Linked DNA regions of Homo sapiens: region 1 is linked to region 2. The links come from fine-mapping of genetic effects on gene expression. A gene starts in region 2. The other region holds a variant in brackets. All regions are shown on one strand. Distances are between the middles of the regions. Region 1 overlaps MCUR1 (mitochondrial calcium uniporter regulator 1). Region 2 holds the start of MCUR1 (mitochondrial calcium uniporter regulator 1).

The links. PIP is the estimated chance that this variant, and not a neighbour inherited with it, causes the effect.
Region 1: its variant is fine-mapped to the expression of MCUR1 in T cells (TOPMed, PIP 0.95). The same link has a PIP of 0.9 or more in lung.

What each region holds. Positions count from the first base shown.
Region 1 is chr6:13,785,824-13,791,204 of GRCh38, forward strand. MCUR1 (mitochondrial calcium uniporter regulator 1) reads right to left here. Exons shown (of 9, transcript NM_001031713.4): 9 at 734-5,041. The coding sequence ends at 4,986. Among named protein-coding and RNA genes, the nearest start is that of MCUR1, 26 kb to the right of the region's middle. RefSeq lists an enhancer at 1,829-2,661 and a silencer at 3,330-3,498. The variant C/A (reference allele first, on the strand shown) is at 3,180.
Region 2 is chr6:13,812,242-13,817,622 of GRCh38, forward strand. MCUR1 (mitochondrial calcium uniporter regulator 1) reads right to left here and starts at 2,316. Exons shown (of 9, transcript NM_001031713.4): 1 at 1,774-2,316. The coding sequence starts at 2,188. It overlaps LOC107986571 (a long non-coding RNA gene), which reads left to right and starts at 1,569. Exons shown (of 2, transcript XR_001743986.3): 1 at 1,569-1,848. RefSeq lists silencers at 1,504-2,173, 2,254-2,523 and an enhancer at 2,684-2,783.

The sequences.
Region 1 (5,381 bases), 26 kb before region 2:
GCTCTGTCACCCAGGCTGGAGTGCAGTGGCACAACCACAGCTCACTGCAGCCTCTACCTCCTGGGCTCAAGCCATCCTCCCATCTCAGCCTCCTGAGTAGCTAGGACTACAGGTGTGTGCCACCACATCCGGCTAATTTTTCTATTTTCTGTAGAGACAGGGTTTCACCATGTTAGCCAGGCTGGTCTCGAACTCCAGGACTCAAGTGACCCACCCGCCTTGGCCTCTCACAGTACTGGGATTACAGACAAGACCAACCGTGCCCGGCCAGATATTTTTTAAAATTGTGTATTTCTCAGCCAGGTGCAGTGGCTCATGCCTGTAGTACCAGCACTTGGGAGGCTGAGGCAGGAGGATGGCTTAAGCCTAGAAGTTTGAGACCAGCCTGGGCAACATAGTGAGACACCATCTCTGCAAAGAATAGAAAAAAAATTAGCTGGGTGTGGTGGCGCATGCCCGTGGTCCCAGCTACTTGGGTCCCAGGCTGAGGTGGGAGGATCGCTTGAGCCTGGGAGGTCGAGGCTGCCATGAGCAGTGACTGCGCCAATGCACTCCATCCAGCCTAGGCAATAGTAGTATCTTGTCTCAAAAGAAAAAAAAAAAAGAAAATTGTCTATTTCTAAAAACCTGTATTTAAACCTCATCATTTCCCCTCAAACAAGTAGCTTGTATAAAATTACTCATAACATGAACATGCTAAAGAAATTCTTTTGAATGATGAAAAGTTACTTTGTACATTATATTAAAATTTATTTTCTATGTATACCCAAATTTTCAAGTATTAGATTTACTTAGAAATTCACCAGTGTTATCATTATACAATTGGCTGGAATTAACAGTTGCAATACAGTTATTCTAGCTTTTCATATTCAATTTGAATGATCAGAAAAGTATATTAGTCACACAGAATTAAATATTTTAGATAGTAAGAATCTTACACTTTATTAGATAATAAAACATAATTGATATTTGCTTAAGTAACAAAAAAGTTAAGAAATTGGGTTATAAGCAAAGGAACATAAGTGTAAAATGTGTAGAAAGATAAATATTTTCCAAATAAAATTCTAATAAAAGGCTAAACATTCTCAAATATTTTACATACATGAAGAATAAATTATTTCTGGTTAACATGTTTTTGCCTTAGTGCCAAAAAAGCCAGAACAAATTTGATAAGCTCACATTAAAATCAAAGTTTTCTAGATATGAATTCTATATACCATCTCTATATTTGTTTAGAATTTTGCAAAATTCTTAGAAGATTGCATGTTAGGGTGGGGGAAGATAAATGCTTGCCAATACTGACATGGTTAATTAACAGACAGGCTTGAAAGGAGAAGGCTAGAAGAGGGAAGATTATGTCACTAAGCATAGCTACAAAAGGAAAAGCCACATGGAAGCAGAGACAAAGGCAATCCCGACACACAGAGGCATGTTTGTTGCGGCTCAGGGTTTCTGTTTTTCAAGTGTTCAGAGACGAATTCCAGCAAGACTTCTGGTTTGAGTCAAGCCTTTCAACCGAGGTGCTTGGCATACTTAACGGAAAAAGCGAGTACATTCAGATTTAGTTTTGCTAGATATTAAACTAGAAAACTGGATGACAGTAAAACCAATACAGAAACAAAAAGTCATGTTTCCAGTAAAGAACCGTACACACAAGCAGGTTTTGCTTATTAATGTAGCAGGAGAGCATGGAAATCGGAGTTCAGACTCTTTAGAAAAGACAAAAGGCAGGGGAGGGGAGAGAAGAAAAGGAGGAATGCAGAGAAGCCCTCCAAGAATGATGAGTGATTCGTGCAGGAGAGGGAAATACAGACGTTCCGTCCATGTGAGATTCTGCTTCAGGTATTGGACATCGTTCCCTCCACCTGCACCTAGAGGATATGTGTTCAGGATCTCGCTATGGTTAGTTACCCATGTGCTAGACATAGGTTGCTAGCTAGAAGTTTTGCCAGCCATCTTCCCCCCTCCTAGTGCTAATGCCTAATTTCCTAAAGTAATCTGAATCCTTATAAGCCAGGGTAGCTCAGGAGGTTCTATTTACTTATTTATTTATTTTGAGACAGAGTCTCACTGTGTCGCCCAGGCAGATCTCGTCTGGGCCCGAGTCTCGTTGCAGTGGTGTAATCTCTGCTCACTGCAACCTCTGCCTCCCAGGTTCATGCAATTTTCCTGTCTCAGCCTCCCGAGTAGCTAGGATTACAGGGGTGTGCCACCACGCCTGGCTAATTTTTCTATTTTTAGTAGCGAGAGCATTTCGTCATGTTGGCCAGTCTGGTCTCCAACTCCTGACCTCAGGTGATCTGCCTGCCTTGGCCTCCCAAAGTGCTGGGATTATAGGCATGAGCCACCGCACCCAGCATCAGTAAGTTTTAATATTACGTCTAGTCGGCTCACGGGTGCTTGAGCCAGAAGTGGGAAGGGTACACTTGTATTTTGGGCTCAAATGGTTTTCAAATAAAATACATCTGACCAAATAAAGTGAACACAGTCCTGAGCCCTCCTCTCTCCAGATATGCATGCAATCCACACCATCAAAAGAAGAGTTCACTGTTCCCAAGGCCAAGAAGAGGCTATGCTGTACTGCAAAGAACTCTATAGCAAAATCGAACACCCAAATTAAGTGCCAGAATGATGCAGCCCGCTCTCACCAGGAAGAACGACATGTGAGAAAACTTATAGCAGATGCAAAAATGTCAACCCACCATGTTATTTAAAAAAAAATTTTATCAGGATACAAGGACACTTCACTGTTTTTAACCCACACAAGGTTAGGTAATGTTTACCTTGAAACATAATCGCATATGGCCCTTTATGCCACTCACCTAGGCCTTTAATAATGAGGGCAATTGCTAAGTGTGCTGTCTCTTCTGGGGACTTCTCTCTGAAAGGGGGATGATATATTGATAAAATATTTTATTAATCAGTTAAGAATTTTTGATCTACTTGAAAAAGATTAAATTATAATATTTCACTTTGAAACTGCTATTGCTCATGCAAAAGTACTTGATTTTCATACTATATGGAGCTCACAATCTTTGGACTACACAAACATTCTCTAAAAGGGCAATGACTTATATTTTCCAAAGTTTAGACATGACATCCAAAGGACAAAAGGTAACTATTTTTTTTACCAATGTGGTTGGAACAGTGACAACGAGCAATGTATTCACCAAACTGAT[C/A]AAAAAATCTGCCTGTGGTTCCTTCACTGTATGTGTGTGCAGAGAAAGGCAGAAAAGCTTCTATCCATGTCATTGTCTCTCTTGCCCATGTGCCAGTAATTTGAATAAGATGAGAATGGGCCAGGCGCAGCGGCTCACGCCTGTAATCCCACTACTTTGGGAGACCAAGGCGGGTGAATCACGAGGTCAGGAGTTAGAGACCAGCCTGGCCAACATGGTGAAACCTCATCTCTACTAAAAATACAAAAATTAGCTGGGCGTGGTGGTGGGCACCTGTAATCCCAGCTACTCAGGAGACTGAGGCAGGAGAATCGCTTGAACCCAGGAGGCAGAGGTTGCAGTGAGCAGAGATCACGACAATGCACTCCAGCCCTGCGACAGTGCGAGACTCCGTCTCAAAAAAAAAAAAAAGGTGAGAATGTGCTTTTCCAGAATAACCCCAGTTGTATCTAGAATTTGTTTTCAATATAAAGGCAGGTATGAGAATGTTTTGAACAACAGAATTAATCCATCTAGATTAGAATGCTGTGTGGCATGACCATTCTCGAATTTTGAAAGCCTGAGCTGGTTGTGGGCAAGGGGATATTCATTAATGACATAAATTTCATTTATGAAATATGTATCCATCATCTAGGTATCTTATACATGGAGAGCTGACTGCATCCCTTGTATAAAAAGTAAATGAAGACCGGAAGGAAGCAGACTTTGTCCTGCAAACTGAAGCAAAGTTCCATGCTAAGAATCAGCAGGTTTTCTAGGTAGGTAATGCCACCAGTGGAGGATTATTACAGTTCTCAAATCATGAGGGAAAGAGATGGAGAAGAGGGAGGGAGGAGGGAAAATCTTGCATTCTAAGAGGTAAGAGTCCCCATTACAATTGCAATGCTTCTTTAGACAGCTGATTTTTCTGGCTGGAAGGCACATTAAAAATAACCCTAACAATAACTTACCAAGACAATGGAAATCAAAAGAAAAGAAGGTAGACGTGCAGCTGTCTTATTAACATGACAACCAACTACAGCTGAAACAATACTATGGTACAGGGACTAGCTCATGTTAAAGACTGGTTATTTAGGTAAAGAGGATCTGGTGCTCTTGGTTTAGCTTCAGTGATTTTCCAGCACTTATTAAAGCCATTGTGCCCTGAACATGGAGACCCCCAAATCCTCTATGTGCCAAAGATTAAGTTGTAGAGAATTACATCAATGTTTGCTGTTGGTGTGCACCACAGATGAGACCAAGCTTCCTGGTCCGGCTAAGTGGAATCTTCCATGCACTGTGCACCACTCAGCTAGAAAGTCAACTAAGCAGAAAGGAGATAAGGAATGGCTATGGAATACCTGACTTCTTTATCTTGGTTATGTGTCCACAATTTTCATAAAAATAAATAATACACATTAAGTCAAAATCTGGGCTCAAATGTGTAACAAGAAAACAAAAGGACAACAATCTGGTATTCCGGTTTTTTTTTTTTTTTTGAGACGGAGTCTCGCTCTGTTGCCCAGGCTGGAGTGCAGTGACGTGATCTCGGCTCACTACAAGCTCCGCCTCCCAGGTTCACACCTTAGCCTCCCGAGTAGCTGGGACTACAGGCGCCCGCCACCACGCCCGCCTAATGTTTTAATTTTTTAGTAGAGACGGGGTTTCACCGTGTTGGCCAGGCTGGTCTCGAACTCCTGACCTCAGGTAATCCACCTGCCTCAGCCTCCCAAAGTGCTGGAATTACAGGTGTGAGCCACCGCACCCAGCCAACAATCTGGTATTCTTAAGGCAAAACAGTAGAAATCACTTTAAATAGACACTTTATTAGATCCACAGGCGATAAAATCCCAGAGCTACTGTTAGGCACGTAAATATAGACCCTGTAAGAAAAAAACAATTGAGAGTACTATTAGTTCTATTAAGAGTTACTTGAGGGAACATCTTTTTTTAAGAAAACCTAAAAAAGAAAACCTAGAAACTTAGATTGCTCACTGATGTCCCATATTCCGTGAAACGCCTGCCTACTGAAAAAACAAATCCCACACCCTTTATTTTATTTTCTTATTTTAGAGACATGGTCTCATCTGGTACCCAGGAGGAGTGCACCATGCAATGGTATGATTACAGCTCACTGTGCCTCAAACTCCCGGGCTCAAGTGACCCTCCTGCCTCAGCCTCCCAAGAAGCTGAAGCTACAGGCAGATGACACCATGCCCGGCT
Region 2 (5,381 bases):
TTAAGTAGCTCAACCGAGAACCTCAGGCACCAAGCAAACAAATGGTTGGGAAACGCTCATTGGCTGGTTAATGGGCATACATGCTTCCTTAACTGTGTCTCTGCTCTCTTCTGTTTTTATGCATCCATACTCATTTTTTATGATGACTGAAGAATGAGATAGCTGACACTAAAACAACAGTACCACCTTACCGATTGGTCAGCAAATCCGTGAGAAAGAACACTCTCTTTTTGCCCTATACTCTTGCATTGAGAGAAAAACAAATTGGAAATTACTAGCTTGTCAGAAAAAGCGCAACAAAAGGCAAAATACAGAATAAAGACCAAACTCATCTCCGACTCCTAATTACTGAAGGACAGTGACACCGAGTTCACTACTCATTCCCCACTCTCTGTATATAAAGTTTCCTTCACTTTATTGCTCTACTAATCAGTTTTTACCCCAGCCAATGATATTCTTAAATTATAGATATGGTCAACATTTAGTGGGCCTATCTGTTGAAGAAAATATGAAAAATGTGTAGTTAGTGATGGCTACTAATGAATATGTATAGACTGCCCAAAGTGATAATTTTGCCAAGTCTGTTGATTATCAGAAATGATTTTTTTCTTTAATCAACAATATGCTATCTAATAAATTGATTCTATTTACTTTCCTCATCTCCAGGGCAGTGATCTCTCTCACCTCCTTTAAATAGTCATGAGCCCCACAACTACCTTTCAGCCCAGGACAGAGGGGCACACACGACAGTGGTCTATGAGACTATAATACATATTTTTACTCTACCTTTTCTACATTTAGATGCGCAAATACCATTGTGTTCAGATTGCCTCTAGTATTCAGTACGGTAACATGCTGTTCAGGTTTGTAGCCTAGGAGCACTAGCCTCTACCTGATAGTCTAGGTGTGTAGTAGGCTGTAGCATCCAGGTTTGTGTAAGCACACTCTACAATATTCACACAAGGAAGAAGTCGCCTAATGACTCATTTCTCAGTAGGCGACTGTCCTGAAGAGATGCATGACTCTAATTAAATGCTACCTTCTCAATGAAATCGATTCTGATCACCCTATTTAAATTCACAACTGGAGACCCATTCCACTTCCCAAGCCTTATCCTATTTTTCTATACCAGGCATCGAATTACGAATATATAAAAATTATTTGTATATATAAATTATATATACATCAATTATGCATACGTATATCCACACACACATATTTACTGCGTCTGCTCTGCTAGAATTAAGCTCCAGAGGGAAGATTTTGTGGACTGATATATCTCACACATCTAGAAAAGCGCCAGGGACAGGGCAGACGCTAGGACTCCACGAATTAATGATTCCATCAGAATTTGAAATCAAACTGTAAAGCAATCCCTTCATTTCCCAGAGCTTTGCTGCTCAAACATACACACCCCTTCCCCTTGAACGCCCAACAGGCTGGGCGCTGCCAAACAGAACTCCTGGAAGGCGGCGCCCAAAAGCAGACCCTAGGAGTGGGCGGGCACCAACTCCCCGCCCCAGCACGCACCTCCCTCCAACTTTAGCGCCCGGGATTCCCAGGAATTCGTCTCTTCTGGGCTAAGCCCCGCCACCGCGGCCGAGCAGGGCGGGCCCGGACCTTCGACCCACGCTCCGGGCAGATGCCGGTGGCCTTGGAGGACCCGCCCTCCGGCCTGCCGGGCCTTTCCTCGGGGAGGCTGTAGCTGAGATCCCCGCCCCGCCGTCCAACCCCGCGAGACGAGCCCCCTCTCCTCTCCCGCCCGGGCCTCACCTCTCCTGCAGGAAACGAGTGCAGGCGCCGGGCCGTGGTACTGGGGAAGGGCGCCGGCGGCAGCGGCGACGCCCGGTGAGCACCTCCACGCGCTGCTGCGCCCGGCCGGGGGTGCGGCATACCCGAGGCGCGAGCGCTCCCAGTCCCCGAGCTGCCGGCGCGGGGCTGCGGCGGCCAAGCGCGGGGAGGGCACTAGCAGGAGGAGGAGCAGCGGTGAGGCACGTGACACGCCGCCGCGGGCCGCCGGGGCGCGAGGGCGCAGCGCCCCCAGACCGTCGGAGAGCGCAGAGAGGCAGCGGCGTGCTGAGGTTTCGCTGCCGCCCGGTCTTCCGCTGAGGCCCACGGGCAAGAAGAGAAGCCGCTGGCGGCCGGGCAGGCGCTGGGTCCTCTGGCCGCCGACCGAGCCGCAGTCCATCCCCGAGCAGTTCACTGGCCCGGGCGCGCGCTCATGCCTCTCGCTTTTGGCGCCGGCCACGCGCGGTCCAGGCCCAGAGTCCGACAGCGGGAGCGAGCGTGGGCCACAGCGCAGGACCGCCCTTTCCTGCCGGGCGCGCGGGCGGGGCTCGGGACGCGCGCCGGGGGTGGGGTGGGGCGGGGCGGCAGGAGCCCGCCGTGGCGCTCCGAGATGCGGGGACCGTGCGAGCCCCCACCCCATTCGCTAGGCGACGGCGGCGACCGGGAGGAGCCTGCGGGCACTCCGGAACTGGAAGGAGCTTGTTGCTGTCACGATTTGCATTTTCACTGCACTGCTGTCCTTAAAAAGGAATTACCCCGGTGCCCTTCAGAGTCCTGTGAAAAGTCTCAGACCGACAGGCTGCCCTAGATTTCACTGATTATCCTAAGTCCCCAAACATGTGGTTCTGGGGAGCATTTTAAGGAATTATTAGCAGGGCCCAGGGAAAGGCCCTCACATAATACATTCAAAACTAAATTTTCAGAGTTTTTGTTTCCAGATTAGAGCACCAAAAACATGGGAAGGTAGCAATCTGGGAACTTAAAACGTGGGGCATGAATGTTAAAATGAGACCTGTCGGGTATATTTGAAACTGGTAATGTTTAGTTTCGTGGACTTTTTGAAGGCCTGTTACACCATTCACAGATAACTGGTCCCTTATGTGAATTTGGAAGATGTTAGTTGAATAAATAAATGAAATGCATAAGGCACCAAGCTAGGAGATTTTATTAAAAATAAAAAACCGCAAAACAAATTGTTCTTATCCTCCAGAAGCTGTTTTCCTATACAGCCATATGTGTACACATACGTGATGGAAGAATGTGTTATGAGCCATGAGAGATGTACAAAGTGCTGGGAAGAGAGGAGCGTGCATATGGATGTGCAAGATAAGTGTCTATCAAAATTTGAAGAACTGAAAAACAGGATTCAAGTCATAGGTTGGTGCAAAAGTAGTTGCGGCTTTTGCCATTGCAAGTAATGGCAAAAACCGCAATTACTTTTGCACCAACCTAAGACACTTTTGTAAAAGGAGTATACATTTATAAAATTGGTAGAAAAAGCAGTTTAGCAATGAGTATCAACAAAAATTTGTAAACTTTTCTCAAGTCACCTAACTAAAAATGGGGATAATGGGAATAATCCAAAATATTAAATATCTACTAGGTTTGACTATACAAACTTGTCATTTTTATGGGTCAAAATGCTTAATATTGGTAATTTCACATATGCACAAAAGATAGTCATTGTATCATAATTTGTGATTGTGAAAAAATGGGAAAATAGTGCACAACATTAGAGGAACGATTAAACTGTGGCACAAACTTTAATGTTAGTCCTTTGTAATTTTTAAAAATTGAGGTATAATTTGCATACAGTAAATTCCACAGACTTAGGTGACATTTAGCAGTTGATAAATGTCATTTAGCAACTTGATGACATTTAGCAGTTGTATATACCACCCAGTCAAGATCTAGAACATTTTCATTGCTCCAGAAAGTTATTTTGTGCCAGTTTTCCAGACAATCCACCACCACCCCAAGGCAACTATTTTCTCTTTTTTTTTTTGAGACGGAGTCTTGCTCTGTCACCCAGGCTGGAGTGCAGTGGTGCAGTCTCAGCTCACTGTGTCCTCTGCCTCCCGGGTTCAAGCAATTCTCCTGCCTCAGCCTCCTGAGTAGCTGGGATTACAGGTGTCTGCCACCACGCCTGGCTAATTTTTGTATTTTTAGTAGAGACGGGGTTTCACCATATTGGCCAAGCTGGTCTCGAACTCCTCACCTTGTGATCTGCCCGCCTCGGCCTCCCAACGTGCTAGGATTACAGGCGTGAGCCACCGCGCCCGGCCAACTATTTTCAAATTTCAATGACCATAGATTAGTTTTGTCTTTTTTTGAACTTCATGTAAATGGAGACCTACAATATGCATTGCCTTGTGTCTTTCTTCTGCTTTGCGTCTGACTTCAATATCAATGAGATTCATCCATGCTGTTGTATCAGTAATTAGTTGCTTTTAATTGTTGAATAGTATTCCATTGTATGACCATACCACAAGCGGTCATCCATTCTATTAATGGCCATTTGCTTTGCTTATAGTTTTTGGCTATTATGCATAGGGCGTTATGAACATTCTTGTATAAGACCTTGTGTGGACATAATTTTTATCCCTGTTGGGGAAAGTATCTGGGTCAAATTGCTGAATCATATGGTAGCTTAACTTTAGACACTGCTGAATTGTTTTTCCAAAGCGACTGCACCCTTTCACACTCTTAGCAATAGATGAGCGTTTCGGTTGTTCCACATCCTTGCCAAATTTTGATATTTTCAGTCCTCATAAAATGGTACCTTATTGTGATTTTTAACATAACATTTCCCTGATGCCTAATGATGTTGACTAACTTTTCATGTATTACTATTACCAGCCATATTGAATACAATAACATATGTAAAGCACTTAGCACAGTGCCTGGCCTATGATAGGAGTATAATGAATGTCAGTTCTAACTACAGGTTGGATAGCATCCACTTTTCCTTGGATGTGACACCTGTTGTTTTATTTTCCAAAGCATTCCCTTTCTTTTGGTCTCAGCACCCTAGTTTTCCATGGGCAGTGGCTCTTCTCTGCTCTCAGTCCATGCGGTTTGGAGAGACTGATCGCTCTGCAGACCACAGGCATGGGCATGTCACCCAATCAGAGTTAATGAGCAGCCGGGCGCGGTGGCTCACGCCTGTAATCCCAGCACTTTGGGAGGCCAAGGAGGGCGGATCACTTGAGGTCGGGAGTTGGAGACCAGTCTAGAGAAACCCCGTCTCTACTAAAAATACAAAATTAGCTGGGTGTGGTGGCACATGCCTGTAATCCCCGCTACTTGGGAGGCTGAGACAGGAGGACTGCTTGAACCCAGGAGGTGGAGGTTGCGGTGAGCTGAGATTGCACCATTGCACTCCAGCCTGGGCAACAAGAGTGAAATTCCATCTAAAAAAAAAAAGCTTCAATTCTAGGATTCTTTTTTTGTTTGTTTATTTGAGATGGAGTCTCACTCTGTTGCCCAGGCTGGAGTGTGGTGGCTCAATCTTGGCTCATTGCAACCTCCACCTCCTGGGTTCAAGCGATTCTCCTGTCTCAGCCTCCCACGTAACTGGGATTACAAGCAAG